Linked DNA regions of Homo sapiens. The protein of the gene in region 1 purifies or fractionates together with the protein of each later gene. This does not show direct contact. Each region holds a gene or a part of one and is shown on either strand. Other genes may lie near its edges. The genes, in order: ZNF419 and DDI2.

The links.
Region 2: the proteins of ZNF419 (region 1) and DDI2 purify together in Homo sapiens (co-immunoprecipitation; one large-scale study listed by IntAct). This does not show direct contact.

What each region holds. Positions count from the first base shown.
Region 1 is NC_000019.10:57,486,445-57,490,820, reverse strand, and holds the start of ZNF419 (zinc finger protein 419), read right to left. Parts: upstream 3,072-4,376; 5' UTR 2,871-3,071; coding exon 2,838-2,870; intron 691-2,837; exon of another isoform or gene 675-690; coding exon 636-674; intron 1-635. UniProt on the Homo sapiens protein: May be involved in transcriptional regulation.
Region 2 is NC_000001.11:15,648,423-15,652,236, forward strand, and holds part of DDI2 (protein DDI1 homolog 2), read left to right. Parts: intron 1-1,297; coding exon 1,298-1,401; intron 1,402-3,283; coding exon 3,284-3,473; intron 3,474-3,814. UniProt on the Homo sapiens protein: Aspartic protease that mediates the cleavage of NFE2L1/NRF1 at 'Leu-104', thereby promoting release of NFE2L1/NRF1 from the endoplasmic reticulum membrane.

The DNA.
Region 1 (4,376 bases):
GGCCTTATACCCGCTGATGCTTCCCCCAGACATAATGGAGATCTGAGGTTGTCTAAGCATTCCCAGCTCAACCTTACCTCCATGTATTTTCTAATGTTGATCACTATGCCTTCTAAACCTCCTGTCATTGGTTGCCAGAAATGAGAACCTCTCCATAGAATACATAGTCTGGGTTGGGCACGGTGGCTCACGCCTGTAATCCCAGCACTTTAGGAGGCCAAGGCGGGCGGATCATCTGAGGTCAGGAGTTTGAGACCAACCTAACCAACGTGGAGAAACCTCTCTACCAAAAATCCAAAATTAGCTGGTGTGGTGGCGCATGCCTGTAATCCCAGCTACTCGGGAGGCTCAGACAGGAGAATTGCTTGAACCCAGGAGCCAGAAGTTGCAGTGAGCCGAGATCGCGCCTTTGCACTCCAGCCTGGGCAACAAGAGCAAAACTCTGTCTTAAAAGAAAATAATAAAAATAATATATAGTCTGGACTCAGGGCCCTGACTGTGTGTGACCATCTTCCAGGGAACTCAAATGGAAGGGTAGGGAGAATAGCCAGCAAGGAGCCTCAAGACACCATAATTCTGAAGACCATGTAGGTAGGAGTGCAGGAGTGTGAGGACCTGAGACATCCTCCACTTACCTCCTCATGGTCTGTAAGCAAGTCTGCAGCCACAGGAACCTATGGAAAATCAAGACTATGAGAACCAGACAGTGATGTTGCCAAAGGATCATCCAAGCCCACTCGTCTAGCCTGGAGTCAGGTGTGCCTGACTATCTACAATCTGGGCTTTGGTTCTTAGTGATGCCTCTTACCTGTTGTGTGCCCTTGGAAAAGTGCTCAACTTCCCTGTGCCTTGGTGTTGCCATCTGCAACATGGCAATAATAATGGTATTTACTCAATAGGACGATTGTTTGTATCAAACTCATTCTTATGTGTCTAGGACTAAGTATCAACTCTTACTGTACACATAATTAATGCTTCTGTCAACATTTTCAGCGCAAATAAACTGGTAGGTTTTCAAAATGTGGGTTTCTGGCTAGGCGCAGTGGCTCACACCTGTAATCCCAATGCTTTGGGAGGCCGAGGTGGGCAGATCGTCTAAGGTCAGGAGTTTGAGACCAGCCTGGCTAACATGGTGAAACCTCGTCTCTACTAAAAATATAAAAATTAGCTGAGCGTGGTGGTGCATGCCTGTAATCCCAGCTACTCAGGAGGCTGAGGCAGGGGAATCGCTTGAACCAGGGAGGCAGAGGTTGCAGTGAGCAGAGATTGCACCATTGCAGTTTAGCCTGGGCAACAAAAGCGAAACTCTGTCTCAAAAAAAAAAAAAAAAAAAAAAGAAAGAAAGAAAGAAAAAGAAAATATGGGTTTCTTAAACTTACTTTTAAATTAAGAATGTGATACTTAAGGTGCTTTATTTTAATCAAATACTTTCCAGTATACTAACTTTACAACCAATTATGAAGTGCTTACATCAGTTTAACTTAATAAATCCGTGTTGTTTTATTTGCCCCTGTGTGTATATGAACTATGATCAATTAGTGCTTAAATACTTACCTCATAAATTCACAAGTTAATAAACTGGGACCTGGGTCTGAGAAACCTGAGCACATACCATTCCTTTTGGCAACCTGGCTGCCTGCTATATACTCCCCTGAAGACCATCCTGCTGAGAGCCCTTCTACTGGAGCAGTTGATCATCCCTCCTGTGCTGACGGCTAGGGAAACTTAGGCACCAAAGGGGCTGCTCCAGCAGCCTGGCTGACGTTTCCTTTTGTCCATACGGACTGTACATGAGGAACTGCTGAGCCTGGAGTGGCAAACCTATATACTACTCAACACTGCAGTCTCCATGCAGTCCTGGGTCTTCATACTCTATAACCCTCCATTCCGGCAGACACCAGACAGAACCACTTCTGACCACAAAACTCCATGCTATAGAGGCAGCCCCGTCCTACAGGGCCATCTCTCCCTTCTCTCACCTTAGGGCCCATCTGAAAGGGAACCTTAAGATTCTCCCTCCTAAATAGGAGCCCCAGGACTTACCCTAGTCCAGGCCTCTACCCAACCAGCCCATATCTACCATATCTCCAGCCCAGATCCCTCCCCAAACTTCCAGATGTGAGTGGGCAAGCTGCCCATGTGGACACGACACCTCCACTCTGGGTCATCTCAGGATTACCATGTCCAAAACCTACTCCCTGCACAGCCTTACCCATCTCCATCCTTCCTGATATTCAGGAACAAACAAACAAAAATACAAATAAAAATCCAGAATGGCTCTTCATTCCCTTTCTTTCAGTCACATCTGATGCAACAGGAATTCCTGTCTGTTCAGTTTTTGATATCCATCCAAGATCTGATCACTTCCCCTCCTCTGTGGCCCAGTCCCAGTAGACTCTCCACTAGTCTACTGAATTTACCTACTCACAGGTCTGTCTTCACCCGCCTCACCCCCACCCCAGTCTGTTTTGACTTGAAGGGCCTTTGGCAAACTTTGAGAAACAGATCTTGTCACTCTTCTGTCTCCAGCCCTCCGCGGCCACTGTGGCCCCCTCAGGATGAAAGCGCAGCTGCTCGGGCTGTCGCTCGACACGCGCCTCGTCCCTTCCCAAGCTGCCCACTACAGACACCAGGAGGCCTCAGGTTCGGGACTCGCTGAATGCGCCTCACATCTTTGCGAGCCGGGCCCCTTGCCCTCCATTGCCACCCCATCACACTGCGTGTCAGAAACGGGACGCCGCGCACGAACGCCCCACAGTTCTGCACCCGGGGACCTGAGCAGGCGGCCCTCACAGGGCTTTAGGATTCGGGGGAGGCCAGGAGGACGCGGCGCTCACCTGAGCGGGGTCCCTCAGGGCGGCCGCCGCCATCGGAGCCTGTGAGTAGAGCTGGAGGGGAGACAATGACCGAGGAAAGGGCCCGGGCCACCCTGGGCGCCGCCACCGAGCCTCAGACCCGCCTCTGAGCGGCGAGAACAGCGTGAGTCGCCACCGTGCCTTCCGGCGCTGGTCGCCTCAGCGCACAACCAGCTTCTCGCAGGTTAGTTCACCTGAGTCGCGAAAGTGAATACCAAACGAGACGCCGGAAGTCCCGCCCATTGCGTGTCGCACGCTCGGGCAGACCTCTTTTCATTGGTCAGGGATCGCCGCCTCGCGGCGCTGCGCCTTTTGGGCAATGTAGTTCCCGTGCCTCCAAACTTCCAGGAAGTGGGCATAACTTCGGAGATGGAGATTGGAGATGATAGATGATGATGGAGATGGAGACGGAGATGGAGATGATGATGGAGATGGAGATAACGGAATAGGAGATGGAGGAGAAATTAGGGTTGAGAACTTCTCTCGGACTCATCCAGAAACTGCTGTTTTTGGAGATGGGCCTGGATTTCAGTTTCCTGCAGCTGATACCCCAATCTTTCCTTCTTTTGAAGGAATTGAAGAGGATCTTCAGGGCCACAGTAAAGAGGTTTCTCTGGGAAGAGCCACGTATAGATCCCCAAATTTCCTTTGACAAAAGGACACCCAATATTAAAATTAACGGTGGCCAAGCAATGCCTGATGTATGACAATAAGAAAAGGCTCTGAATTCTGGATGTAGGTGATGAGAGAGTATGGGAGCCCAAGGATTTACTTTCCTCCTTTATCCCATGCTCATTTGTGCTCCTTCCTTCCTCAAAGACCCAACATTGGTGTACAGGCACAACAATAGGCGGCAAACCCATGAGGCAACTCCCCCTCCATTTCTCTCCTTCATCCCTTTATGCTCCATGTTCCCACTGCTCTTCCATTTCCAAATATAAAGCCAGTTCCTCACAGGTGGGTAGAATGCTAGACTGTTGTTTACAACACACAACTATTGATAAAAAAAAGATGTCAACCCTTTATTATGTGTAGTCCCACTACATCCATTCCCATTGAATCTAGTCCCCTCGTGTCAATCTAATTTCCCTACTTCTTTTCCTGCCCCTTCCATCTGTTGGCTGAATAATGATCAATTTCAACACAGCATTGGAGTGACTTATGAGGACAAGAGAAAATGAAGCCCTCCCTCCTTCTTGGAGCTTTCTGGAACTGGGTGTTCAGTACTACTTGACTCTGAAAAGGAGGAGGGGAGTCAATATTGGGATTGAGAACATGGTAGAATAGAGAGAGACACAAGCTCTTTACCCCTTCCATGGCAGCTATGGCATTAGTTATTTCAGTTAGACCATTATGTGGCATATGGAAGGGAGGGGAGGAGGAGAGTGAGGAGAGATGAGTCCATGACAGGAGTGGGACAATATGTAAATAATATCCTCCTTCTGAAACCAAGCACAGGAATAAATGTTTCACTTCCTTGAGAACATCTATTAGAAGAGCAGATTCTGGATTAATCATCTA
Region 2 (3,814 bases), on another chromosome or scaffold:
ACATTAATCCACAGAACCATTGAGATGCCATCAAAATCCTGGTAGATTTTTTGTGAGACTGGATGTGCTCATTTTAAATTTGGCGTGGGCCCTATATTGTGAGAATGGGCAAAATACTCTAGAAAAACATTGCCTTCTAGATATCAAAGGACTATCTAGAAGATATGAGTAGAAACAAACCCATGATTCTATGAACATTGATCAATGAGAGGAAGTCTTACAGAGCAATGGGGAAATGTTAGGAAATGTTGCTGGGACAAGAGGTATCCATGGGGAGAAATGAATTAGAAATCGGACCCTACCCACACCACACAAAAGCAAATTCAGAGTAAACACCTAGATGCAGGGGAGGGAGGATTGCTTGAGCCTAGGAGTTTGAGACCAGCCTGGGCAACGTAGCAGACCCTGTCTCAAAAAAAAAAAAAAAAAACAACCCTAAAACCTAGATGTGGAAAGGAAAATTAAAGATTTTAGCAGAAAATACACAATATCTTGTGTAAGGAAGGAGTTCTTTAAAAATAGGTCATCTGCTGGGTGTGGTGGCTCACTCTTGTAATCCCAGCACTTTGGGACGCCAAGGCAGGGATGACTGCCTGAGGCCAGAAGTTCAAGACCAGCCTGGTCAATATAGCGAGACTCAATCTCTACAAAAAGTTTTTGGCTGGGTGCAGTGGCTCACGCCTGTAATCCCAGCACGTTGGGAGGCCAAGGTGGGTGGATCACGTGAGGTCAGGAGTTCAAGACCAGCCTGGCTAACATGGTGAAACCCTGTCTCTACTAAAAATGTAAAAATTAGCTGGGCGTGGTGGTGCGTGTTTGTAATCCCATCTACTTGGAAGGTTTAGGCAGAGAATCAGAGAACACAGGAGGCAGAGGTTGCAGTGAGCCGAGATCACGCCACTGCACTCCAGCCTGGGCAACAGAGCAAGACTCTGTCTCAAAAAATAATAATGAAAAGAACTTTTCAGCTGGACACGGTGGCTCATACCTGTAATCCCAGCACTTTGGGAGGCCAAGGTGGGCAGATAACCTGAGGCCAAGAGTTTGAGACCAGCCTGACCGACATGGCAAAACCCCGTCTCTACTAAAAATACCAAAATTAGCCAGGCGTGGTGGCACATGCCTGTAATCCCAGCTACTTGGGAGGCTGAGGCAAGAGAATCACTTAAACCCGGGAGGCAGAGGTTGCCATCAGCCAGGATTATGCCATTGCACTCCAGCCTGGGCAACAAGAGCGAAACTCCGTCTCTGTTTTGAAGTACGTAACAATAACCTTTTCTCTTCATGTGCTTTTTAGCTCAGGTTCAGATTGAAGGAGATTTTTTGCCATGTTCCTTCTCTATACTTGAGGAACAGCCCATGGACATGCTTCTGGGACTGGACATGCTTAAACGGCACCAGGTAATTAAGAGCTTCACTTATTTTTTTTGCATCTGCTTTTTGTAATATGGTCATTATCACATTATTTTTATTGGTTACATATACTGGAAAACTAAGAAATAACGACTTTTCAAACCTGGAAATGTCCTTAAATTATGTTGCTATACAGAGGTTGAAATGATGTGTCGATATAGATAGAATCTGTTTTTGTGAAATCTCTCTGTGAATCTGTTAAATCTTGCCAAATGTTTTGAGATTGTAAAGGACAGTTTGGTTCCCTTGTATAATTTTCAGATTCTGGTTAGATCCTGATTAGTAGTTTTTTGATGACCTGACTAAAAAGTGTGAGTCAAGTAAGTCTTTAGCATTCTCTGATGCTGATCAAACAGTACTTGGGAAGAAGACCTTCAAGGTTAAGGAAGGTATATGTTGGGAGTGAAAGTGTTTATTTAGTACAGGGTGCATAATTAATATATTAATTTGTGTTGATATTTATCTTTCTACTCTAAAGCACAATAATTTGAGATATACTGCCGTCGTTGAAGAAGCAGTTAGTCCACTGGGTATTTAGATGAGATTAGGCATGCTCAGGGTGGTATGGCTGTAGACCTCACTGGGTACTTCACATTTTTCACAGTAGGGTTTTATATCCAGTCAACCTGCCAGGTACAGTGGTACATGCCTGTAATTCCAGCATTTTGGGAGGCCAAGGAGGGAGGATTGCTTGAGGCCAGAATGAGTTTGAAACCAGTCTGGGTAACTTAGTGAGACCCTGTCTCTACAAAAAGTACAAAAATTAGCTAGGCGTGGTGGTACATTAGCTACTCGTGAGGCTGAGGCAAGAGGATCCCTTGAGACCAGGCTGCAGTGAGTCAAGATTGTGCCACTACACTTCAGCCTGGGTAACAGAGCAAAACCACATCTCAAAAAACAAAATTGAGTTAAAAACAATTGAAAATATAGCTAATCAATATTTTTATGTCACTATTTTAAAATATTTCTGTAAAAGTAGATGCATCATATTGATAATAAGACACAGCATTCTATTTATTTATTTATTTATTTATTTTGAGATAGCGTCTCGCTCAGTTGCCCAGGCTGGAGTGCAGTGGTGCAATCTTGGCTAACTGCAAGCTTCGCCTCCTGGGTTCACGCCATTCTCCTGCCTCAGCCTCCCGAGTAGCTGGGACTACAGGCACCCATCACCACGCCCGGCTAATTTTTGTATTTGTAGTAGAGACGGGGTTTCACCTTGTTAGCCAGGATGGTCTCGATCTCCTGACCTCGTGATCCGCCCGCCTCAGCCTCCCAAAGTGCCGGGATTACAGGCGTGAGCCACCACGCCCGGCTCACAGCATTCTAAATAGAACGAATGAATGAATGAGTGTATGTATCAATAAAACCTTGTCACTGCCTTTCCTTATTTTTTTAGTCATGGTATAGACCAGCAGTCTCCAACTTTATAGATGTAAATCATATATGTGCACAACTGTCTATTAAGTAGTTATAAAATACACAAAAAAGGAAGTTAGCATTAGCATGGAGTAAAGAATACTGTGGAGATTGCCTTGCGTGGCACAATCTTGGCTCACTGCAACCTCTGCCTCGCAGGTTCAAGTGATTCTCCTGCCTCAGCCTCCCAAGTAGCTGCGATTATGGGCATGTGCCACCACGCCTGGTTAATTTTTGTATTTTTAGTAGAGGTGGGGTTTCACCGTGTTGGCCAGGCTGGTCTGGAACTCCTGACCTCAGGTGATCTGCCCTCCTCAGCCTCCCAAAGTGCTGGGATTACAGGCATGAGTCACCGTGCCTGGCCATTTGTGATTGGAGTTTTAAATTAAGGAGCATAATTTTTCTGCATGGTGTTTTATCTGCTATTATTCTTTGGTTTCTTTCTTCCAAGTGTTCCATCGACCTGAAGAAAAATGTACTCGTGATCGGCACCACAGGCTCCCAGACCACCTTTCTTCCTGAGGGAGAGCTACCAGAGTGTGCCCGGTTGGCATATGGGGCTGGAAGAGAGGATGTACGGCCAGAGGAGATTGCAGACCAAGAATTAGCAGAAGCCCTTCAAAAATCAGCAGAGGATGCAGGTATTTGGGATGGCCAAACTCTTCAATACTTGTTATTGATGGGTAAGCCCGGGAAGTGTGGGCTTCAGAAGGGGTAGGAACCTTTCCAGTTTTTAATTAGTCTCATGGTCCAGTAGTAGATGTGTTCATTATTTGTCTTCTTAACCTCCTTCTTTGATCTTCCTTTTTTTTTTTTTTTTTTTTTTTTGGAGACATTGTCTCACTCTGTCACCCAGGTTGGAGTGCAGTGTGCAGTGTGACATGATTGTAGTTCACTGCACCCTTGACTTCCTGGGCTCAAGCAGTCCTCTCACCTCAGCCTCCTGAGTAGCTGGGACTACACCTGGCTAATTTTTTATTTT